Homo sapiens: one gene and its partners. The protein of the gene in region 1 purifies or fractionates together with the protein of each later gene. This does not show direct contact. Each region holds a gene or a part of one and is shown on either strand. Other genes may lie near its edges. The genes, in order: REPS1, AAK1, BMP2K and AP2M1.

Region 1 (7,036 bases):
AGAAGAAGAGTCATAACTTACCCAGGTTTTTAATTTTTGAAGAACTGGCAGTATTGTTGTTACCTTGGTTAAAATAGAAAAGTTAGGGCAGAGGATGATGAAGTTATGTTTTAGTCACTGTGAGTTTAGAATGGTGAGGAAAAGTGAAGTGTTAAGTGAAAGGGAAAATTTGGAAGTTTTCATTTGATACCTAAACAGCAGTCAGAGATACACGAAGAAAATCAAGATTGTTTGCTATTATGGGAATAGGCAGGAGTATGCCAGGAGGGCTTCATGTAATAGAGGTAAGAAGCAAAGTGAGATCTGATGAAAGGCTGTGAGATTTGGTCTTTAGGTTACATACAGACCATGTAACAAGTTAGTACTTGCCTTCTAATACTTAACAAACATTCTTAGAAATCTTTATCATGTAGTCACATTCATTCAGCCTATTTCTTCTATTAACAAAGTGATTATACAGTTACTAAAAAGAAGAACTTTTGTATTCATGCAGGACAACAACAGGCTGGAGTTGTTGCCCATCCTCCTGCAGTGCCTCCAAGACCACAGCCCTCACAGGTAATTCTCCAAGGTATTTATTACTAAATGTCCCATGATCACTTTGCCTGCTAGGTATTTAATTCTATTCTCAAATTATTTGGAAGGTCAGGAATGATCTGTTGGTAATCTTTAATGAGCATTTAATTCAGTGAGGCTGAATCTCATTTTGAAAGATGCACATTTCAAGAATGATCTGAGTTATTTTTTGAAAGAGCCTTAAAAGTGAAACAAATGATAATGTCTTGACAGAGAAGAGTTTAGTGGAAACAACAATGGATTGGGAGATAGGAAATATCCATTAATGTCCTGGGTCTAGCAGTGACTCACAAAATCACTTCACCAGGCTGGGTGCAGTGGTTCACACCTGTAATTGCAGCACTTTGGGAGGCTAAGGCAGTAGGATTTCTCAAGCCCAGGAGTTCCAGACCAGCCTGGACAACATAGTGAGACCCCCATCTCTAAAAACAAAACAAAAAAATTAGCTGGGTGTGGTGGTGTGCACCTGTAGTCCCAGCTACTTGGGAGGCTGAGGTGGGAGGATCTCTTGAGCCTGGGAGATCAAGGCTGCAGTGAGCTGTAATTGCACCACTGCACTCCAGCCTGGATGACAGAGTGAGACCCTGTCTCAAAACAAAACAAAATACCCCTAAATAACCTCACTGCATCTCTCTGGATGTGTTTACCACATGAGTTAAGGAAGTATAATGACCTCTGCATCCCTTCCACATCAAAATTAGAGTGCTGTAGTAGACATTTATAAAATGCTTTGGGACAGCCTTAGTGGCTAAAGTTAAGGATCACATTATACATGAAATGAAGGAATGAGACTTAGCAGGGACTTGAAAGATAAAGTGGAATTTATTGGGGAAAAGGTATTCCAAACCGAAGGTATGACATCCACAAAGCGATGGAGGTTTGTGTTAAGCCTGGCACATTCCTCAGGGGAAAACAAGTTAGTTCAGCACAACAGGAGTAGATGTGTGGAGTGATGAGAAATGAAGCTGTCCATATCGTAGTAAGAAGGATAGACTTTTTCTTAGAGGAGATGAAGAATTTTTAAAGGGAAGAGACTTCAGATTTCTTTCTTTAGTATCCTTTACTTCCTTTGTCATAAAACATCTCACACTCTATTTTAATTTCTTATTTACTTATTCTCTTCTCCTGCTCCGGACTGTCAGCTTTATTAGAGTATAAGTGGGCCTCATTTGTTTTGTTCACAAGTACATATTCAGTAAACATATTTTTAGACTGAAGATGGAGCAGCATTGGTCTGGCTGGCAAAGGAGTGGAAGATGAATTGAAGGGAAGTGTTCCTGACATGTTGGGAGGATAGAGCAGTGGTTTTCACACTTTTTAGAGCAAGCTTTTTAAGAAACAGTGAAACATTAAAAAAAAATAACTTATTTAAGGAAGAAACTATTGTGCATTAGTCCAATTAAGAAAAAAACACATGCAAGTGGAGAATGGGGGTAGGGCCAGACCTACCCTCTCCTTCATTGTACTTTCTTTGCAATACAGTTTTTGAAAAAAAATATCTTTTTATTGGAGGTTTATCATCTTAATTTTTTTTTTAGTGTCTTAGCTTTTCACTTATGGTTTAATCATTTCTTTAGAGCTAAATGTTACTATAATACACCTCTCTGAACTTACAGATAATAAAACAGGTCATCTTTATATACTAAGTTTTCGAAGAAGAAGAAGATGACTCTGTGACACTGATAGGCTGATAGAATGTGTGTTCCTCTGTTCTGAACCATTGCACAGGCTCCTGGTCCTGCTGTGCATCGCCCAGTGGATGCCGATGGCCTCATAACTCACACTAGTACCTCACCTCAGCAGATACCAGAGCAACCAAATTTTGCAGATTTCAGTCAGTTTGAAGTATTTGCTGCATCAAATGTAAACGACGAACAAGATGATGAAGCCGAGAAACATCCAGAAGTCCTGCCGGTCAGTTTTCGAGGGCTTGGCTAATTTTCTGCAGGCAGTCACTTCCCATACCATGTTGTGTCAACAGAGCAGATATTAGAGGGGACATCAGTGAGTAAAATATTCCCTGGGTCAGTGCTTCTCATCTTTTTTATTGGCCTCCAATATCTGCTGGTTGCAGTGTAATGCTTACTAAGTATCAGAGTCTGGTGGGGGTGGGGGATTGATATCACATGCAAAGACACCACCGCCTGGCCGTGGCTAAAACGCTGCTTTGGGGGTTTCCATCTTAATGCTAAGCATCTGTCTGTGTGATTTGGTGAAGATTTCCCTGTCATAAGAGGCCATGGTTACCATAGCTCCACTCATTGCAACTTTTCCCCAAGGGGAATTTCACTATATGTAACTTTTAGATCTAATTACAACTTTAACTAAAAACAAATTTCAGCCAAACTTCTAATTAAAGCATTTAAAATTTGTATGAGAGTAAGTTGCCTTAGTTAAGCAAAGACTATAGGATACCAAAATTTAATATTCACAGTGTTCTAGGATATTCTATTGTAGTTCCAATGGCAAGAACCTCTCTAGGAATCTCTGACCTAAATTGCTGAGCATAAATGTGGAGTTGGAGAGACCAGAGGAATTCTGCAATCTCTTTCTTATAGGTCATAGCCATGGAAAATTTCCTACTAGCTCCCTTTTAAAACCTACAACTTTCTGCCGTGCCCATTAGGGGACTGGGCTGCATCTAGGAGGGTCAGAGTGGGCATGTAGAGGTGTGCACAGGGTACCGTACTCACTCCCCTGGGTGGATGCCTCCCTTCTCCCAACCACGAAGACTTCCCAGACTAACCACTTAGAGGTTCGGTGCAGTGGCTGCATCCTCACCCCGTCCTCCTCTCCCTCACACATTTATGACCTGCATCCTCGCCTGTCCTCCTCTCCCTCACACATCTATTACATAGCTGCATCCTCGTCCCCTCCTCCTCTCCCTCACACATCTACTACCTGCATCCTCACCCCATCCTCCTCTCCCTCACACATCTACTACCTGCATCCTTGCCCCGTCCTCCTCTCCCTCACACATCTATTACCTGCATCCTCGCCCCATCCTCCTCTCCCTCACACATCTGTTACCTGCATCCTCGCTCTGTCCTCCTCTCCCTCACACATCTGTTACATAGCTGCATCCTTGCCCTGTCCTCCTCTCCCTCACACATCTATTACCTGCTCTCCCATCTGCCTTTCAGTAGCAGAGAAGGCTCATTTAATAAAGTTCCTTCAAGTTTCTTATCATCATCTCAGTTTTCTTGTCAGAATATTTAACATTTTATTCTGATTTGGTACATATTCTATATTTATGCATAATTACATGTTATGTAGAATTAATAGTGATAAACATATTCATTTTTAGGCTGAAAAAGCTTCTGATCCTGCAAGTTCTCTTCGAGTTGCCAAAACAGATAGTAAAACTGAAGAAAAGACAGCTGCTAGTGCTCCTGCCAATGTGGTATGCAAAATGTCTTTTATAATAATAATTTTGTACATCATAAGTAATGTGAAATAATTTTTAGAAATAAGGTCAGCCAGAAATCATCTAACCCATTTCTCTGCCTTTAACTGTAGTATAGTCAGTCTAGCTCAGAACAAAGTCTGCCTATTTAATGGAGATGATATTCTGTAATCTATGTTAAGTATGTGTCACAGGTTCTCAAAATTTAAGTGGTTATTGCATTCTTCCCACTATATAAGGTAGAACTTCTTTATAGGTGAAATTCAGTTTCTTTTATTGTAGTCTTCAATATAATAAAGAAAAATTATCAGCCCTCTAAGGTTGTTATTATTCCCTGTTCTCTTAACTTGTTCTTTAACTGTTTTAGGTATAATTTTTTCCCCCAACATTTTATTATGAAAACGTTTAAGCATACAGAAAAATTGAAACAATTTTTCATTGTACATCAGTAAATTCACTACTTTATACCATTATTATTTTAGGATACTTGCTTTACTACATATCTCTCCATGCCATCTGTTCATCTGTCAATCCTTATATGTTTTATGTCTGTGTTAGTCCGTCTGCATTGCTATAAAGGAATATGTGAGACTGGGTAATCTGTAAAGAAAAGAGGTTATGCCGGACACAGTGGCTCACACCAGTAATCCCAGCACTTTGAGAGTCCAAGGCAGGCGGATCACTTGAACTCAGGAGTTTGAGACCAGCCTGGGCAATGTGGCGAAACCCCGTCTCTACAAAAAGTACAAATATTAGCCGTGTGTGGTGGTATGCGCCTATAGTCCCAGCTACTTGGCAGGCTGAAGTGGGGGGATCGCTTGAGCCTGGGAGGTGGAGGTTGCTGTGAGCTGAGATAGTGCCCTACACTCCACCCTGGGTGACAGAGTGAGACCCTGTCTCAAAAAAAGAAAAGAGGTTTATTTTGCCTCATGGTTCTGCATGCTGTACAGAAAGCATGGTACCAGCATCTGCTTCTTGTGAAGCCTCAGGAAACTTAGAATCATGGCAGAAGGCAAAGTGGGAGCCGGTGTGTCACATGGTGAGTGAGGGAGCAAGGAGAGATGCCAGGCTCTTTAAACAGCCAGCTCTCATGTGAACTCAAGAGTAAGAACTCATTCATTACTGTGAGAAGGGCACCAAGCCATTCACAAGGGATCTATCTCCATGACCCAAACACCTCCCACTAGGCCCACCTCCAACATTAGAGGTCACATTTCACCATGAGATTTGGAGGGGACAAATATCTAAACTATATCAGTGTACTTTAGATTGCAAGTATCAGCACACTTTCCCTTTGAGGGAATAATTTTGGTAACTTTTTTTTTCTGTTATCTAGACATTCCCAATAGTTATAAAAACAGCATGTGTTTCTGAAGTGCTTAAATTCTACTTTCTGGACACTGTGTGTGTATTAGTCTGTTTTCACACTGCTATAAAGATACCACCTGAGACGGTAATTTATAAACAAAAGAGATTTAATTGACTCACAGCTCTGCATGGCTGGGGAGGCCTCAGGAAATTTACATTTATGGCGGAAGGCAAAGGGGAAGCAGGTGGCAGGATAGAAAAAGAGTGAGGAAGTGCCTCACTGTAAAACCATTAGGTCTTGTGAGAACTCCCTCACTCTCATAAGAACAGCATGGGGGACCACCCCCATGACCCAGTCACCTCCCACCAGGCCCCTCGCTTGACACATGGGGATTACAATTTGAAGTGAGATCTGGGGACACCGAGCCAAACCATATCACTATGTTTTATTACATTAGTAGTCCTGTGAGTTTTTAAGTAATGAACTTTATTTTTGTCAACTCACAGTAACAAATTAAAAATATCACTTAACTAAAGAGATAGCAGTTGACTATTGTTTTTATTTATTTACAGGTAAATCAAGTTATGGTAAATGCCAAAATGCTGTTTTTTATTCTGCCAAGGGCAGATTCATAATCACCGACAAACTGTCAACTCATTTTCAGAAGTTATAATTACTGTGCATATTAATAATGATGTTTTTGGTTTTTTAAAGAGTTGCCTAGCTTTCCATTACTTTATAATGTTATTTTATTCACTAAGATGAATGTTAGTATTTTTGAGTAAGAAATCCTATGGTGATAATGCATAGATATTTCTGGAGACTGCCTTTGTTTATTGTTGAACAGGTATATATTGATTCTGTATCATATTTATGTTAAAACTGTGAATATTACAGTCTTGCATCAGTATGTTGCTCTAAAAATACTTATATTGCAGGTACATTCATGATTGTGGTGTCAACTAGAAACATCTTTTCTCACTGTAATTTAAGTTAGCTCTTGCCACAAATATATAGATTTAAAGTAGGACAAGTAACTTTCAATTTTCCAAGAGCAAATGGCTTAAAGAAAGCAAATGGTGTTGCAAAGTGCTAACTATGAATGTCTTCAAAAATGCTTATTATTAATGGAATTCTTGTCTTAAAGAGCAAAGGCACAACACCACTTGCTCCACCACCTAAACCTGTTCGAAGAAGATTAAAATCAGAAGATGAATTAAGGCCAGAAGTTGATGAACATACACAAAAGACGGGTGTCTTAGCTGCTGTTCTTGCATCACAACCTTCTATTCCCAGGTAATCAAAGCTATTCCTAGACACATTTAATTACTAGGAAGAAAAAGCACGACAATTAAAAGTAATCAAACTGGCCCAGGCGTGGTGGCTCACACCTGTAATCCCAGCATTTTGGGAGGCTGAGCTGGGCAGATCATTTGTGGTCAGGAGTTAGACCAGCCTGACCAACATGGTGAAACCCCATCTCTGCTAAAAATACAAAAAAATTAGCCGGGTGTGGTGGTACACACCTGTAGTCCCAGCTACTCGGGAAGCTGAGGTAGGAGAATTGCTTGAACCCAGGAGGCGGAGGTTGCAGTGAGCCGAGGTGGCACCACTGCACTCCAGCCTGGGCAACAGAGCAAGACTTCATCTCACAAATAATAATAATAACAATAATCAGACTGAAGTAAATTATGGTCAGACTAGTTCTTTAATTGAGCAGAGCCTCCTCATGTACGGGTAGGTAT
Region 2 (7,036 bases), on another chromosome or scaffold:
TAGTTTCTGATATTTTGTTACAGCAGCCCAGAGGAACTAAGCCAGTAAGCAACCTTCAAATGCTATGGAAGCATTATCTGACTTGAAAAGCTCACAGGGAGATTCAGCTGGGAAGGGTTGGTTATTAAAGGTCAACAATGTTATGAGAGGGCCGGGCACAGTGGCTCACGCCTGTAATCCCACCACTTTGGGAGGCTGAGGCAGGTGGATCACTTGAGGTCAGGAGTTCAAGACCAGCCTGGCTAACATGGTGAAACCCTACCTCTACTAAAAATACAAAAATTAGCTGGGTGTGGTGGCACATGCCTATAGTTCCAGCTACTCGAGAGGCTGAGGCAGGAGAATTGCTTAAATCTGAGAGGCAGAGGTTGCAGTGAGCCAAGATTGTGCCACTGCACTCTAGCCTGGGCGACAGCAAGACTCTGTCTGAAAAATATATATATAAAAAGAATGTTATGAGAAAAGATACTGATGATCCTTTGTACAAGGAAGAATTTTAAGGAAGAATCCTATACTTGTAGCTAGGAGCCTCGGGTTCAAGTTCATTCACTGCTACTTCTTGCCAATATGACTTTGAAGAAGTCATTCAACCAATGTCAGCCACTGCTTCCTCATCTGTACAGCTGGAGTAATAACCATGCTTTCTACCTCTGCAGGGATGACGCAATCACAAAATGAGAGTATGTAGATATAAGGCTATTTCGCATAAGAGCAGCTTGTCCTGCCAGTGAAAGAGGCAGCAAGGTTTTACTAAGCATCTCATATGTTCTCTGTCTGAGATGCTATGGCAAACAGAGAAGTAATGGAAGACTCGGCTCCTGTCCTGCTAGTTGGCATGATATGACCAACACACAAGAAACAACTGAACCCCAAAAGGCAATTACATATCTCTTGCAGTGATGGGGTCTGTGGTGTAGTCTCTAAGCTATGGGTTTGAAGGAAGGAGATCAGAGAGGACTGCAATGGTTATGAAAGATTTCATGAAGACAGACTATTCTTAACTGAGTCTTTTCTCTGTAACCTCACCTTCATGGAACCTTGCTGCATCTAGTTCACCATCTTTACCTATGTTCTAGTTTTCTCTTAGTAAAGTTAAAGTAAGTATTGCAATATTTTTGGTCTTTTTTTGAGGAACAAAAAATGGTACAGAACCACTGCTCTAGACTACAATGGTCTCAAAACAGTAGTGTACAAGATGACAATGCACTGGGGTAGACAAAGAAAATAAAAGATCCTCTATTTTTATTTATTTTCATTTTAAAAAGTAAGATTTTCCAAGTAAAAAGGCAACCCACAGAATGTGAGAAAATATCTGCAAATCATGTATCTGATAAGGAATTGATACCCAGAATATACAGAGAACTCCTAAAATAACAACCCAATTCAAAAATGGGCAAAGGACTTAAATAGACATTTTCCAAAGAAGATATACAAATAGCTAATAAACACATAACAAGATGCGTGACATCACAAATTACTAGGGAAATACAAATCAAAAGTATAAGAAGATACCACCTCACATCCATTAGGATAGCCACTGTCACAAAACAGAAAACAAGTGTCGGTGAGAATGAGGAATAACTGGAACCTTTGTGCACTGTTGATGGGAATGAAACATGGGTACAGCCGCTATGGAAAACAATGTGGCAATTCCTTAAAAAATTAAAAATAGGATTACCATATGACCTAGCAATTGCATTTCTGAGTATATACCCAAAAGAACGCAGGGTCTTGAAGAGATATTTGTACATCCATGTTCATAACTGTAGCAACATTATTCACAATAGCTAAAAGGTGGAAGCAACCCAGTGTCCACTGATGAATGATACATGTGGCATATATATACAATGGCATATTCCTGAACCTTAAACAGGAAGGAAATTCTGACACATGGTACAAAACAAATGAACCTTGAGGACATTATGCTAAGTGAAATAAGCCAATGACAAAAGGCCAAATACAGTAATATTCCACTTATATGAGGTATTCAACGTAGTAAAAATCATAGAGACAGTAAGTGGAGCGCTGGTTGCCAGAGGCTAGAGAGAGGTGGGAATGAGAGTTGTCATTTAATAGGTACAATTTCAGTTTTACAAGATGAAAAGAGTTATGGGAATGGATGGTGGTGATGGTTGCATATTATGAATATATTTAACACCTAGACGTACATTTAAAAATGATTAAGATAATACATTTTAGGTTATGTGTATTTTACATTTAAAAATTTAGAAAAAATAAGATTTTGTCCTTGTTAATATATAACATATGGCCCAACACTAGCACTCCCATTCAGTCAATGTTCAGTCACATGTCCACTATTGAGGGCTGATGGGGTGACATCTTTATAGCACACTGAGATATACTATAGTTCATGTGTGCTTGGTTAAATGGATTCACTGATTACATTATTTTAAATTAATTAATCATCACAAAACAAACTAGAGGCTTAAAAAGATTTCTACTAAAAAAAAACCTTGGATTAAAGATAATGCAATCAAAAATGAACAAGAGAATGGCAGAGCTGTCATATCTATTCCTGGCATACTCTTCATACATAGTCACACTGCAATGTAGACACAATCACAATTGAATAAGTTAACCAAAATCTTGTTGAGATTATTTAAAATATAGATTTGCATCCACTATCATTTATGATGAACTTCATCCTAAGTATATAATGTGACTTCAGATATTAGCTAATGATAGCAGGACATGAATATAACTTACAAATAAACAAGCACACATACATGAAGATATGGCATGTTTTTTAACTAGAGCACTATTCTATCCAAAAAGTTTAGAGACTACTGCTCTAGACCAACACTGCCAGAACTTGTGATGATGAAATACATCTCACCTGTGCTGTCCAAAACTGTAAGCACTAGCCACATGTGACTATTAAGCAATCAAAATGTGGCTAGTGCATCTGATGAACTGCTATTTTAGATAATTTATTTTTTCTTTTTCTTTTTTTTTTTTGAGACGGAGACTCACTCTGTCACCCAGGCTGGAGTACAGTGGCAGGATCTTGGCTCACTGCAACCTCTGCCTCCCGGATTCAAGCGATTCTGCTGCCTTAGCCTCCCAAGTAGCTGGAATTACAGGTAGCCGCCACCACGCCCGGCTAATTTTTGTGTGTTTACTAGAGACGAGGTTTCACCATGTTGGCCAGGCTGGTCTCAAACTCCTGACCTCAGGTGATCCATCTGCCTCAGCCTCCCAAAGTGTTGGGATTACAGGCATGAGCCACTGCACCCGGCCTATTTTAGATAATTTAAATAGCCATATGTGGCTAGTGGGCTACTTTATTGAACAGCACAGCCCTGGGCCACTAGTAGATTATCGCTATCTCAAAACATACAGCTCCCCAGTAAGCAGTTATTTTTCTGCTTTTGTGTCTTTGGCCATGTTATTCTCTCTGCCTAGAATGTTCTTCTACCTTGTCCATCTAGCAATAAGTTCTCATTTTTGAAGACACACCTCAAATGTCACCTTTCTTTAGCTTTCCCTGACTACTCCCCAACCCACAAAATTGTTGCCTTGGGTCTGTTCCCCAGCTCTTTTACATGACTCCAGCGCAGCATCTGCAGCTATTTGCTCACATATCTGAAATCCTATGACTGTGAGGTCCTCAAGGCACAGCCATGTCTCATTTATCTCCGCATGATGCCTGGCACATAATGAATGCTCAGTAACATTTACTGAATAAGGGAGTGAATGAACTGACAAACCTTGATCTCCCAATTCATAATGCAGTGTTCTTTCCACCACACCAAAATATGGCTCCATAAAATAGACCGGAGGCAAGTCTCTGCTAGCTCACAGTGCTAGATGCTACTTTAATAGACAATACGTTTCTATTATTATCATTTTTTTCTCTTTCAGATGCGGATGTCACAGTTACCTCATAAGTAGGCTCAGAAGGCATGCATCCTTGAAAGGGTGCAAGATGAAGGTGGTACTAGTCCCCTTTCCGAAGCGTCAACATTCAAATATTGCAAGTTAAAATGACGGCTCTGATGCAGTAATATTTTTTGTGTGTTTTGTTAATATTTATCAAACCTTTCTTGTGTACTCTACATGGCGTTTTAGCTACCAGGGTACAAGTGTATGTCTCCCCTCATACCCTCCCACTCAAAAGTCACGTGAAACTGCTGCTCTCTCTTCATCATTATTTGTTATTAAATGAGCTTTACTTTGTTAGAAAGACTGAAAGAAAGAGTTTGACCATGGCAATTGCTTATTCTGGACTTCATTTCTGAATTCTAGATTTGGCTATATTTAGCAAAGCTACAACCGTCATCATGCCCAAAGCCAGGAAGAAGACACCATTCACAAACCACCCCCTGAAAATCTGCAGTTGCCTCTAAAAAACCAGACTTCCCAGCAGGCAAAGACATCTGAAGTGGGAGGGATCAAATTGGTGTTTGCGTCAAGAGAAGGTCTCAGGTGCTTATAACTAAATCTCTCTGCCTGGCACTCAAGATTCTCCATAAAATTAGTCCTTCCTTTTCTCTCCAATGTACCTTCTGCTCTGGTCAAACACCTTCAATATCTCCCCTGTTCATACCTTTCGGTAACACTGGTCATTTCCCTTCCCTGCCTGCTTTTGCTTAAGCTTCTAGCCTCTTATCAAACCTTCTGGGACCACTCTTTCCCCAGACACTCGCTGCTCCCTTTCCCCACAATTGGCACGGGGCTGAGGCACAGGAGGGGAGCCGTGCATTCTTGGTACCTATTCATCAGTCTTTCAAAAGGCCCAGGGCCACTGAAGAAAGTGAGTAGCAAGCACCTCCAGGGAGCAACTTAAAGAATTTCATTCTACCACTCCGTGTCCTCTGTCCTTCTTTCCTTGATTCTGGGGAGGAAATGTGTACTGATGAAAATGGTAACACTAAACTAGTCAGTATTCTCAAAATTTATCATGCTGTTTCACCACTTTGCCTATACTATTCTCTCAGCCTGAGAGGTCCTGAGTAACCCCCATCTGGAACATCTGCTGGGCAATTTCTATTCCTGTTCAAACTTCATGTCACCTATGAACTCTCACCCCCAGGCTCTTTATCATAACATCTTTTACCATCTAAGGTATGTATGTCAAAGGCCACGCTTAAGTGCTGGACACTTATCTCAGGTGTTGAGCTCTGTTAAGAGTCAGGCCTGTGTCCCATTCATCTTAGGATCTCTGGAACCTAATACAGTGCCTGCCACAAAGAGGCACGTACGTGTATCATATTGATACCACCAACATATTATGTGCCTTTAATGGAATTTTTGGTGATTTCACACACATTTTTAAGCCTTACTAGTTTGCTCTGTAGGTAGGAGAAATTATCAAAGTTTACTGATGTGGACATTTGGTACTTCTCATCAGCCTTGGACCTGGATTCCTTGAATATAAATTAGAAAGCTGTTCTGAGGAGCCATCTAGTCCACCTTATAGTTCCAGAATGTTGTCTTCAACACAGTAATAAATAAACATTTATTGTTTAAAGCTTAGATATAAGTCCTCGTATAGCTAAGGAAGTATGATAAAAGCACAGCTTCTCAATCCTTCTTTGAACATTGCTCCAATTTTCCCATTGAGCTCATTCTGGAAGCTTAAACCAAATCTTCCCTTGATATCATATGCCCATTAACTTAGACATGATTTAGCTTCTCATCATGGCATCTTTGCTGAGAAAGCTAGAAAGAAAATATTCTCCCTGGCACCCAGCCTAGAAATAGCCATATTCCTCTAAACTCATAACTTAAAGCCTTCACTTCCCCCAAACAGCCCCTGCTGGACTAGTTAGTGAAACCAGGCCAGGAAGGCTGATGCTACCAGGGGAGGTATGGCAGTGCGACATCTTTTTGTCTTACCCAGCACCTGCTCCTTGGGGTTCTTGCAATTCCTTATGAAAAAGCACAGACCAATACCCACGCTAGAGAAAAAGAGATCATCAGCGGAATGTGGTGGTAATCTGGTCTGTGTTTTGAAGCCTCTCACACCACTCCTCCCTAAACTGCCTAGCCACCGCTCTGGGCACACAGGGTACAACTCCTGTGGTCCTTAAACAACTCTGGCTAGAACTGTAGATAAGTCAGCACTCGGGGACTCACAGAGAAGAGAGTCCAGGGAAGGAGCATGGCTACCCAAAACGTCTGTTAAGCCTTTAAGGAGCTGGTGAGGACTCTGCAAAGAACATCTGGCTCTGTCCCCTAACAATGGGGGAAAGGAATTGCTTCAGATTGCTGCAGCTCAACTAGCTTTCACATTGCTCCCACTCCCCTTTAACACACACACACACACACACACACACACACACACACACACTCTCTCTCTCTCTCTCTCTCTCTCTCCCCCCCCACATATATACATATGATGTATAACGTTGCTGGTAAGTAATGGCTACCATTTATTGAACACCTGAAAATGTTAATTATATATATTGCCTCATTTAATCTTCATGACCAGCCCATTAAGCAGTGGTTCTCAAACTTGACCTTGCGTCAGAATCTCTCCAGGAACTTATTAAGCCCCACACCCACAGCCTACAGAGTGAGGCCTGAGAATCTCCATTTCCAACAAGCTCGCAGGTGATAAGTATGCCCCACTTTGAGAACCACTGCCACAGGGAAACAGAGATTCAAGAGTGGTTTGGAATGTCTTGCCTACAGTTCCACAGCTAGTAAAGAACAGATCCAGAATTTGAACCTAGATCTGTCTGACTCTACAGACAGTGCTGGTAACCATGCTACTGTATGTGTGAATGTATGCCTCATCTTCCCAAATTCATTGGCAGATCCTTAAAGGCAGATGTCAATCACACTATAGACCTCCCTCATCCATCTCAGAACTTCATAGGGTCTTTGGACTTGGTAGGTGCTACATAAATACTTTGTATACTGGCTCCTACATATCTACATACTTCTAAGAGCCACAAATTCAAACTCAACTTAAGCCAAAGAACACAAAAAGGGCGCATAGCCAGACCCAGTTTTACGTGACATTCTCTCTCGCTACTCTGTCTTTGCCCATGGTGCCACCACACTA
Region 3 (4,552 bases), on another chromosome or scaffold:
GGAATAATACATATTATAACCTTGATGCCAAGCTTAGTCCATCAATCCAATAAATAGGTTTTCTCTTTAATGTGTCATAGCCTCTTTTCTGATATAATTGAGGATTACAATGTTATTTAAGCAAATAACCAGTATTAATTCAGCCAAAGATGTTATCAGTTTTAAAGATTTTTAAAAATTTATAATGTGGAAGCTGTAAAATAAGTTATTCAGAAGGCACTACACAATATTGTTTTTGCCTTACTGTCATCACTCGAGTATCAGTAATTATGACTCACTGAAAAAGTCGTGCTATTAAGTGTTCTTGTGGCAAAAACTCTTAAGTCAAATGGGTTTTCTTACCTAAATTGTAAACTCTGAGCTCCTTAAGAATAGGGATCTAATCTTAGCAACTTTTCTATTCCACTAGCTGCTACATAATAGGTGCTTAATGTTTGTGGTGTGAATGAAATAACTGAATTTGAATAGAAGTTTACATCCAAAAGTCATAATAAGACAAATAATGAAAAACTCCAAAGTCACTGATTATAAAGAATATGCAATCCATTTGGGATTTATTGCATTTAAAGAAAACAGATTAAAACAGGTATGATAAATACAGTAAGAAAATAACTTTAAATTTCAAACAAAACAGTGAATCAGGGACAGAATTCAGTCAAAAAGAATAAGCAGTGTAAAGGCAATAAAGTAATAAAATCAGTTAGTGCTTAATTAGATATGGCAGGGGAAAAGGGGTGGGAGGGGGAGACTGAGTCTATCTCATAATTGTTTCCCAGCTATATTTGAGGACTGAAGTTACTTTAGCAAGTATGTTTTGTAACAAGTAGAAATACAATAAAGATGTAAATTTGCTTTATTTAAAGGTTAAAGTTATTTGCTTAGTGGTACATAAAAGGCTTCAGAAAATTCAAGTTTAACAAAAAATGGAAGTGTAATCAAAGAAAGTGCACTTAAAGCTGTTTGCCAGCAATTAAAAAGTAGCTTCTATACAGCTTCTATTAGATGACTTTTCAATCACAAAAAGAGCATAGTCATAAAAACAATTCTTTCAAAAGTAGCAGTATAAATTTTAAAATAAAACAAAAATAACCCCAAATCATGACCCTTTGCATTATCATCTACCTTATTCTCTTAGTAGCTTTTGTAAACCCTCACTAGGAGTGAATGTTCTCTTAGATATGATTGTGGTTGCAATTCCATTTTTTAAAAATTCACATTAACTCCACAGTAGAGAGATGTGACATGCATGTGTGTACATATTTTTATCTTAATATATAAAACACCACTGAGTATAAAAGTTCTCAAATAAACTATTCATCATTTATGGTATTCTCACAGTAGATATGTCATCTCATTCTCACAGTAGACTGTCAACTCAATAATTGGACCTAAAATAACAAGTTTGCTAAAAAGAAAAAAAAATGAGAAAAAAGTTTACTGCACATTCTAAATATATTAAAAACAAATGTACCCAAGCGCCTCAAAACTAGTGATATTAATACACTTGTACCTTCTAACAGTGCTTACGTGAAGTACCAAAACCTAAAATAAACCAAGCAGAGTAGCTGACTTGTAAGAAAACTGCTCTGCCTGGTGAACTTCAGCATAGAAGAGTGGGCTCCACCTTAGATTTTCCACCAGCAAGAGGACAACAGTCTATCACTCTTAAACAATAAACAGGGTAAGACTGAAAGTTGTGTCTATTTGCAAATCCGGATAATGTCGTAACTATACCCAACACGTACACAGGGATTGGGGTAAGGGAAAATAATTACACTCCTGAATAAATGTTCTAGTCAGTTAAATTTTCATCCGGCCTACAACCTTTCCTCCTCCACCTATTATACTTACCATGCAATTTTTGTGTCTTAGCAGATACATTCTTCAATGCCATAAAAAGCTGATCTTTTTAATACTAACATTTTACTGACGTGATATTAAAATAAGCAAATGGTCCACTTTTTAAAGGATTATTCAAAATCAACAAGCATTATTAAAGCTGTTAAGAAACAACTTTGGCCTCAAGATTTTTGCTAGCTTCATAATAATTTACTTCTCTTAGTGATGTTCAAGTATAACAGGTTTAGTTATAACTACATCCTAAAGAAGCACAGGGGACACCCAAATAATATTAGGGAAAAAAAACCCCAAATATATATATATATATATATTTGCTTAGTGGTACATATATAATAACCTTTCTTCCTTCCTTAAACCAGAATTGAACCATCCCATAATAGAGCCAAACTTTTATTGAGTGCTGTGTGCCAGGTACTGTGTTAAGCACTTTCACATATCTTGGGAGCTTTATTCTCATAATTCTCACAAGGGAATAACCTGAGCATCAGCTGTGTGGAGTGACCTACACCTTGACCATGATTCTGGGGGATGATGAATGAAAATGCAAAGTATAAATCTATACTCCTTAGGAAAATGCCTCTACTACAACACAAAGGAATCTCTCCATTTCTATCCTATTGAACCCCCAATTGAATCCTGTATCTTTTCTCTGAGCTACAATCTTGAAAGAAGAAAGTCACTGTGCTGTGTTATAAGAATGTAAATATTTTATGCTGTCAGTTGTTTCCTCAGAATTTATAAGTCAAAGGGTCTACATCAGTGTCAGAATCATTTAAAATTATTCAGTGTATTGAAAAGCAAGTAAAACTCTAGGTATTTCATGTTTACATCTGAAGGAGACATTAGTTCATCCTCTACCCCTTTTCTAAATGATGAAACTCATGAGGTCTAGCAGAGACCAAGGACTAATACAATCAAGAAGCATATTGTGTACACCTCAACAGATTTTCATTAAAAAAAATTGTTTGATACAAACCTACTGTAGTTCATGAATTTACTATGTGTAATCATCAACTCTTCACTTTTAAAAGAAAGTATCACTTGAATCTATTTTGTAAAGTTTTTAAACATCTACTTGAGCATTTGCATTAGCAGTATTAATCAACCTGAGAATCAGAAAAAAAAAAAAAGGTGCAAACATATTTGCCTTTGGCACGAGGACAAGTAATTGGTGCAGTCCAGCTCTAAATAATAATGTAATGCTTGGTCTGCCTCTGCTACATTGTGATTCACATATTGCTTCCCTATCCACAAATCTATATTTGATTTAGCATATAAAAGAAGGGAAAAAGCAATAAAAAGACAAATATGTGGTTTAGTTACATATACTTTGCTTCTTTCCAAGTTCAGAACTGTGAAAATAGGCAAATAGCTTATCCCATTGGGGCACTATAAGAGATTCCTAATAAAATTACTCGTAAAATATACTTTGAGATCGAAGAGAGTTAATTTAAAATATAAAAATCAAAGAGAGTGCCAGTTGATGAGTTTCTACTCCTTTCTGTAAATAGCATTAACTGTTCTAGAAACTTCCAAATGTTAATCTGATAGCGCAGCACAATTATATCTTAAAATAGTCATAGACACAGGAAGCACAGATACTATATTCACATTAATTCACATATGTAATCTCTATCATTAAATGATTTCTATAAAACCTCAAGTTTCTAATTAGGATTTGTGGTGTAAAAAAAGGCAAATTGGTAGCTGGGTTCTTTTCAGTAAAGACACAATCAACTAGCAGAATTAAGATGCTAGTCCACCTTATATGCATTTTAGGATCTGGTATATTAGTGCAGAGGTACTTGCAGCAGGATGCATGAATCCTGCCTTTATATAAGGCTTTGTGGGTGTCACCATTCTGTGCACTTTATTAAAACTACTCCACCCCCCAAAACCTAATAAAAATAATTGTTGCTTATGACTTGGGGAATATTTGGTGAAGTTGCTAATAAAGTACATTGTTAAATGCAACATGATTTCACATTGTAAATGTCTTGAAAATTCAGTTTCCGCTACATATTTTCTTCATAAAATAAAATTTTTATACAACCCTTGTCCTCCAATTTTTCCAATAATCTGCTTTATTAGGGCCATCACAATAAAAGTTTGGGGCAAGAAGCCATGCATAAAGTGTTTCTAAAGTAGTGAATGTTTTCTGTTCTGTATCTTTTTTTCTTCTTATAATTTCTTTACAAATGTCAGATATTTCTCTTCATATTTTTGTTCTAGGCTTCTGTGCGACGATAGTCCATTTTTTTAATTTGTTTTAACTGACAAAAATTATATATATTTATCATGTATAACATTGTTTTGGAATATGTAAGTTGTGGAATAGTTAAATTGAGCTAATTACACATTATTTCATATGCTTATCATTAGATATTCCATTTTAATGGCACTTGTTTTTAAAAATGAAACAGAGTTTTAGGCACAATAGTCAGTTACTTCTGGCTCTGCTTTGTGGAGAAAGGTGTATGGACTGAAATCTCTGCACTCTCCAGATAATAACTTTCTAATGCTTTAAGATAACTAGATTGTTTTTAACTGTCTGGAAATTAAAAGAGACCTTAAAAAAAATTCACAAGTGTAACTAGTGTATGTAGAAATAACCCTAATTTTAGGGATATGCACATAAAAATGACATTCTGATATCAAAAATAACAGTTTCACTGTCCCTTCTCAGTGGCTA
Region 4 (6,773 bases), on another chromosome or scaffold:
CTCCTTGCAAATCTTTCCTCCTACCACCCAGTCAGCAAGATTTGGGAAGCTTGGGTAAATGATGGAATTAAAAGGTCAATTTCTTAGGATGGCTACAAGACCAAATGTAAACTTCACACTTAATTTATGCTTAATCTAATTAGAAAACATCTGCCTAAGAATTAGAGAAAGAGCTGGGTGCTGTGGTGGTGCGTGCTTGTGATCCCAGCTACTCCAGAGGCTGGGGCAGGTAAGATCTCTTGAGCCTAGGAGTCCGAGGACCAGGGGGAATAAAAAGGAGCTAGGGAAAGAATCTATCCCCAGGGTACTGGGGCCCGCTGCGGCTGCATGCCCTTGAGGCTTTCTAAGAGGAGCCAGGAAACCTGGGCCCAGAACCCACAAGGATAAGGGCTTGGATGGCCCAGGAGGGGCCTAACTGGGACAAGACAAGGAAAGAGCCTTTAGAGTATTCAGTACAGAAAACTGCACGGAGAGCAACACCAGTTCCCTCCCCATGTAGCTCCCACATCAACACTAAGCCAGCAACTCCACTCTACAGAGTTTATTGGGTTTGTAACTGGACGAAGTCACACGTGTACAAAATGAAGCTCACACTATCCCAAAGCAGAGTAGGGACTGAGGCCGGGGATCCATTACTGGCCTTTGGGGGAGCTCTGAGGTGAGGGGCAACCAACCCTCCCACTCCAGAGCTGTGGCCACAGGGGTGGGAAGGAAAGGGAACCCACCTGGCTTTGGTCACAGAACTCAGAGCCTGGCATTAGGCCAGGACAGACAGGTGGATGGGAGAGCAGGAGCCTCAGAACTCCCCTGCCCAGGGAGCCCAGGGGCTGCTCCACCGGTCCCACTTGTAATGTGCTTGGCCCAGACCTAGACTCGGGCTGGTGCAAAGGGAAGGCAGCAAAGCAGGAGGGAGGAGACACTGATGTGTGGTGGGGGAGGGAGCGGCACCTGGACCTGTGGAGGAGGGTGGCTGGGGAGGTGGGCTAGCTGCCTAGTGGCAGCTAGCAGCGAGTTTCATAAATGCCACTGCGGCCAATGTAGCGCACCCATTTGATGACATCATGGTCGCTGTAGTTCAGCTTCGGTTCAAACACCTTCAAGTAGCGCACCTTGAGGCCAGAGGGCGCGAATGGCACCTGGGCAAGGAGAGCTAGTTAGAAATGTGGCCTTCCTCTTACAGCCGCTCTCCTCTGGGAAGTCCCGTTGCCCTGCCCTACTTCATCGCTACTACAGGTGTTTGTATGGCTGGGGTCCTGAAAGAAGCTGGGGCGGCGTGGGACCTTCTAAGAGGTGACTAAAGAAGAAAGCCCTACCTGTGACACCTTGAATCAGTTCCTTTAATCAGCAGGAGACAGCAACCAAAGAACTGCTTTAGAACATACTTATCCTGCTCAATATTATGAACTTAAAAATAAGGTGGAGAAAATTATGTCTAACATGCGCAAAGCAAAGTCAGCCCATTATCCTGTCTGTAAGTAAACTTTGTGTCTTACCTGGCATTTAAACAATCTAAGTTTTTTGAAAGAACTGTGTTAGGACAAGCCGAGAGAAGTAAAAGATTTGCCTCATCACAAATAGTAATTTCTACTAAGAGGCTTGAAAGGGGAAGAATGGATCTATGAATTAAAGCCAGTTCTTCTTTCTAGGCCTCAGTTTCCTCACCTCTAAGGTGCAGCAGTTTATCGGAATGATCTCTAAGAGGTCTTCCAGCATACCCTGGCATGACTCTAGGCCCCTCCTCTGCCATACCTCAAAGTTCATGGAAATGGGGGGTCGAGCCCATTTCTTCTTGTCGTTGGTAGGCAGAAGCTCAATCTCTGCGCTGATCTGCGATTCCTTCATGCCTGCCATGCGCTTGATCCTGGGAACACAGGGACAATGGGCAGCCCATTGGGGCTTGGAGGAGTTTCAAGGGCAGTTGCCCATTTCAAGCAAGGAGAGAGCCCAGGAGCTTGCAGGAGGTGCCAGAACAAGGAGAAGTGGTCAGGACCCTGCTAACCACTTGCTATGGAAACTTGGGTCTACTTCTTTAGAACAACAGGATGCAGTTTCTGCCTAGACACTTGGACATGCTATCGTTTGCTTTGTCTGCTTCACAGATACATTACAAAGGCAATGTATTCCCTTTGTAATGTATACATTACAAAGGGAAATGCCAAAGCATCTTAAAAAATAAGCACGTGCATGAACCCAAATGCAGGCGTGTACATACTCACATGGAGGTATAAAGACTGACAGTACAAGCAGAGGCTCCTAGAAAAGCAAACAGGCACACTCCCCTGCCCCTCATTCAGAAGGATCAAAGCTGAAAACAAGAGGGTATACTGGGATCTTGAGCCCTGCTGTGGCCTAATGAAGGAAAGACTCACTTCCACACGATGGCATTCTCGCTGGCCTTGTACTTGGCCTTCCCCTTCATGCAGATCACCTGCACCCCGCTTGTGTTCAGTGGGGTTGGGATCCTCACCTAGAAGTGACACACCTGTCAGGGAGCTCTGTCAAGCTGTGACATCAGCTACCTTTATTCCTAGGGACAAGTTCTTCCTCCTCCTTGAGCCCCCTGTCCTCACCTCGATCTTCTGAGCCAGCAGTGAGGGTTTAAAGTTGGACTTGATGACCACCTTGACCTCCAGTTTGGTGCGTCCCACTTCTCGCACTAGCGGGATCACCCGGAAGGGAAGGATGATGTCCTTGGTTGTGCGATACCTTAAGGGATGGGAAGCAAGGTTACCAAAGAGCTGACCCACTTCCTCTCCCCAGTCTGCCAGCAGCACTAGCTGCCTCCTCACACCCCAATGGCACCTCATAAGCTCAAACTCTCCATCTGGCGGGATAAAGCTGATGCTGCGTTCAGAGTCAAACTTGCTGAGTCGCACACACTGGTGGAAGGTGCAGTCATCAATGGCAATTGATTGCTTCCCGCTGCAAGCAGGGGCAGAAGAGGTCTCATTGGTACAGGAGAATGACAGCTGTCATGCTGGGAGACCACTCCACCCCAGGCTGGCACCAGAGACTATGAAAAGCTGCTAGAATGCAGCTTTGTGACTCGGAGGTCTGCCCCAGAGCTTGGGATGAGAGGGAAGCCTTGCAAGCTCATCTCTTGGGGCTCCTTCTGCTAGGGACCTGGGTGTTTCAGGCACACTGGGCAGAGGCTGTCAGTATGTACAGAAAAGGCCTTGGTCCTAGGGACCAAACAAAGGGGCTTGCTCTCTGAGGACGATCCCCTCATCTCTCGTAGCACTAATGTCAAGAGCGAACAGCCAGGCTTACCGTCAGGAACAGAGTTTGCAATTACAGTGGGAATGAAATCCAGAAGAAACTTGTGGTTCACTAGACCCCACTGAGCCCTCCAAGGGACACCCTCTCCCACCAGCTCTCCTGCCTCAGGCACCTCTTGCTTGTTTCATCAGCTGTGCCTTTGCCCTGCTTTTCAATAACAATCTTGTCATTCATCCCAAACTTGCATTCAGGCATGCCACTCAGGTAGCTCTTCATCACCACCCGGCCCGACACATGGGCACTCAGCACCTGCCCTGGTGATGGAACAGATAAATGGGGAGCAGCGGAGTCAGGCAGGCAGGCCCAGGATCCTGCCCTGGGCCCCCTCCAACTTTGTCGTGAGAGGGACCTCACCTTGTGGGGACATGAGCAGGTTCACACTCTCCAGCACATCCAGGAAGAGCTCATTCCGACGATACTTGATACCCTCTCGCCGCCAGCCAATCTGCCCAGTTACCTGGCTGGTGATCTGTGACTGCTCTTCTTTTGTCTACATGAGGGCAGAAACAAACAGCAATGGCCTCACTCCTCTGTCCCTTTAATCATCCTGTCTCTATCCCCACTCCACCCTCATTCCCCATCCCTTCTAGTCCCCACCTGTAATCCATTTTCCCCTATAAGCCCCAAAGGGCAGGGCCTGGAGAAACAAAGCAAAGCTGCAAGGGTGGAAGCTGAGGGAAGAGCTTACCTGATGCTGGAGGCCGCAGGGCCAACGAGGTGCCCACATGAAGCAGCAAGGGAGGCAGAAAAGGAGGAGAAAGCTATGAGGCTTGGATCCTAGAGGAGAGGGCCCAAGCTCGCTCCTCCTGAGGAATACCAGGCCTCAAGACCAGGCCTCCTCCCCCACCCCTCAGTGCAAAAGGAAACTGCTTGAGCTGTATTCCTGGTAATAGAGATGCTGAATTGGCTGCTCCTGCAGTGGGAGGACCACACAGAGCAAAATCGGCCTGCAATCATGGCAGGAGGCTCAGGCCAGCACTTCCTGTCATGGGAGGGCTCATGAGTCAGCTCAGACAAGGCTCAGGGGCCAGCTGAGATGAAGGGAGATTGGACTCCACCCTGACTATAGTCTGCACAATTCAAGTACCTGACTCTTGATGCCCTGCTGCGTGATGAAGGTTTTCAGCGCGCCTGTCTCGGAATTCTGTGGGTAGCCAAAGTCTAGAATCTCTGCAAAAAGAAGGGAACCATCAGCCCCTGGACAGAGCTTCTTCATTCCAGCCCCTACTTGGGCCTACACATCTGACCGGCACAGCTCCCAAAGCCCATGTGGGATCATCCGCAAGAAAGTCTTCTAGCTTTGTAGCATTTATTCTGTGATTTGTGCTTTACAGGAAAACAATTCAAATGTTTGATTTTTTTCAAATAGAGAAATCAAGGCCAGGTGCAGTGGCTCATGCCTGTAATCCCAACACTTCGGGAGGCCAAGGTGGGAGAATCACTTGAGCCCAGGAGTTCAAGACCAGCCTGGGCAACATAGCGAGACCCAGCTCTACAAAAAGTAGTAAAAATGAGCCAAGCATGGTGGCATGTGCCTATGGTCCCAGCTACTCAGGAGGCTAAGGCTGGAGGATTGCTTGAGCCTAGGAGGTCGAGGCTTCAGTAAGCTGCAATTGCACCACTGCACTCAGCATAGGTGACAAGAGCAAGACCCTGTCTCAAAAAAAAAAAAAAAAGAAAAGAAATCAATAGAAGAGTCACATGGCCAGTGGGTGGCAAGTCAAGAAGCTTTGAGCTGTTTTCTCCAGAAAATAGACATTGGGAAGGTGGAAGTATTCACCTTCTCTTAGATCACACTCTACAGAGGAACAGAGATAACAGTGCACCCCAAGAGGCTTGTAATATCTCACTCTCCCCCAGGCTCTGAAGCAGCTGCTGAGATGGAAAACTGGGTGGACAGTTAGTGAACTAAGGTCCAAGCCACAAAGGAAAGAGGATGAATACAGGAGGTTCAGCCACCAAACCTGAGTCAGGTTCCTAGCCCCTTGGAAGATCACCTGCTGGCCTATTTCTGTGTTCTACTTCAGACCAGCCTTCAGGTCTGGATGTGAACTGGCCTTCTGAGGGGCATAGAGATCCTAGCCCAAGAGACCAAATACTCAGGAAAGAAAGTTCAGAGTGTACCAGAGCCTCGGACCTACACCCACCTTCAGGCCAGGCCCAGCCTGGTTTTTTCCCACCCTACGCCCGCTGCCGTGCCAGCCCGCCAGCCTCACCATCCAGCAGCTCATATATGAGCACAAAATTGTTCTTGATGTTTTCCTCGCTGATCTTGCCAAAGTAGGCAGCCATCACGTCACACATCTTATAGAGGAATTCGAAGACCATGGCAGCGTTGACATTCTGCTTGGTGACTGCTGCCAGCCAAATGTTGGACCGCTTAACGTGGAAGAAGCTGGTGCGAGCAATGTTGGTGACGGGGCTGCGCACCTGCTGCCGGGCATGGATAACATTGACCCGAAAGGCATCCACTGCGTTCCTCCTGAGGGAAAAGAGTGCATAGGGCCTGCTCAGCACCCAGGTGAACCTTACCCCATAAGGATCAACCACAGCTGCTAACAGCCCCACCCTCCTTTCTGCAGAAGTCTGACACACACACTCCAAAGAAAGCCAATGCCTAAACCACTGGAGTGGTTCCCTTCTTATGACTCCCTGTGGAGGCATGGGAAGAGTGCCTGAGCTGGGCTAGTGTCTAAAGGCCACAAGAAATAGGGAAGTCAACTATTAAGGCTGATGTAACCTTAATAAAGTGAGGTTCATCAGGTTTAGAGACAGATATTCCTTACTCCCAGGGCTGGCCCTAATTTCCCAGCTTTATCTAGCTTCCCTGTAAGCTCCCAGGTCCAGGACAGAAAGAGACACTGCTTCTTCAGTCCTCCCGCTAGTGATCCCACCAGTGGGGAGGGCCGACTCCTCCAGATGTTAGACAAAGCCAGCATGGCTTCAGAAGTCACAAAGGAGGGAGAAGTACCAAGGGGCCATGGAATTGTGCTACCCATTCTTGCCCAGGATCCAACTCCAGAGCAAGTTGAGGGAATGAAAAAGGATGCAGGAAAACGATGGGGGCAGGCCCCCACCCACCTGTACCTGGGCAGCAGCTTGAGAGGCCGCTTACCTATTGCTACGGCAGCCAATGAGATGGGATGAGAGAAATGACGCCAGCAAGAAGAGGAGAGTGATAGCAACGAGAGAGAGGGTTAGACACACAACACACCGGGAGGGCGGCACACACCGTGAGGCAGAAGCAGACAAGACAGGCAAGGCGGCGTGTGACCTGGCCTTGGCTTGCCCAGTCCATCCAAGGCAGGAGGGGGTCTGGGGTGGGGGGTGTAGCCAGCCAGGTTCAGACAGGCCAGGCCTTGCCACAGCTGCAGCTCTAGCTCATGCCACACCACCAGCCAATGGACAAACGCCCGCAAGGGCCAAGCCAGCCCATCAGCCAGGGAGCCAAATGAAGAGCACTGCCACAGGCCCATTCTGTGACTTTATCTCAA

The links.
Region 2: the proteins of REPS1 (region 1) and AAK1 purify together in Homo sapiens (affinity purification with mass spectrometry; 4 studies listed by BioGRID and IntAct, with this or other methods). This does not show direct contact.
Region 3: the proteins of REPS1 (region 1) and BMP2K purify together in Homo sapiens (affinity purification with mass spectrometry; 4 studies listed by BioGRID and IntAct, with this or other methods). This does not show direct contact.
Region 4: the proteins of REPS1 (region 1) and AP2M1 purify together in Homo sapiens (affinity purification with mass spectrometry; 5 studies listed by BioGRID and IntAct, with this or other methods). This does not show direct contact.

Annotation. Positions count from the first base shown.
Region 1 is NC_000006.12:138,908,219-138,915,254, reverse strand, and holds part of REPS1 (ralBP1-associated Eps domain-containing protein 1), read left to right. Parts: intron 1-493; coding exon 494-558; intron 559-2,304; coding exon 2,305-2,490; intron 2,491-3,883; coding exon 3,884-3,979; intron 3,980-6,438; coding exon 6,439-6,587; intron 6,588-7,036. UniProt on the Homo sapiens protein: May coordinate the cellular actions of activated EGF receptors and Ral-GTPases.
Region 2 is NC_000002.12:69,633,739-69,640,774, forward strand, and holds part of AAK1 (AP2-associated protein kinase 1), read right to left. Parts: intron 1-7,036.
Region 3 is NC_000004.12:78,912,339-78,916,890, reverse strand, and holds the end of BMP2K (BMP-2-inducible protein kinase), read right to left. Parts: 3' UTR 526-4,552; downstream 1-525. UniProt on the Homo sapiens protein: May be involved in osteoblast differentiation.
Region 4 is NC_000003.12:184,177,845-184,184,617, reverse strand, and holds the end of AP2M1 (AP-2 complex subunit mu), read right to left. Parts: intron 6,401-6,773; coding exon of another isoform or gene 6,395-6,400; intron 5,762-6,394; coding exon 5,496-5,761; intron 4,450-5,495; coding exon 4,367-4,449; intron 3,974-4,366; coding exon 3,968-3,973; intron 3,770-3,967; coding exon 3,634-3,769; intron 3,534-3,633; coding exon 3,392-3,533; intron 2,923-3,391; coding exon 2,803-2,922; intron 2,707-2,802; coding exon 2,571-2,706; intron 2,468-2,570; coding exon 2,370-2,467; intron 1,862-2,369; coding exon 1,750-1,861; intron 1,137-1,749; coding exon 1,002-1,136; 3' UTR 527-1,001; downstream 1-526.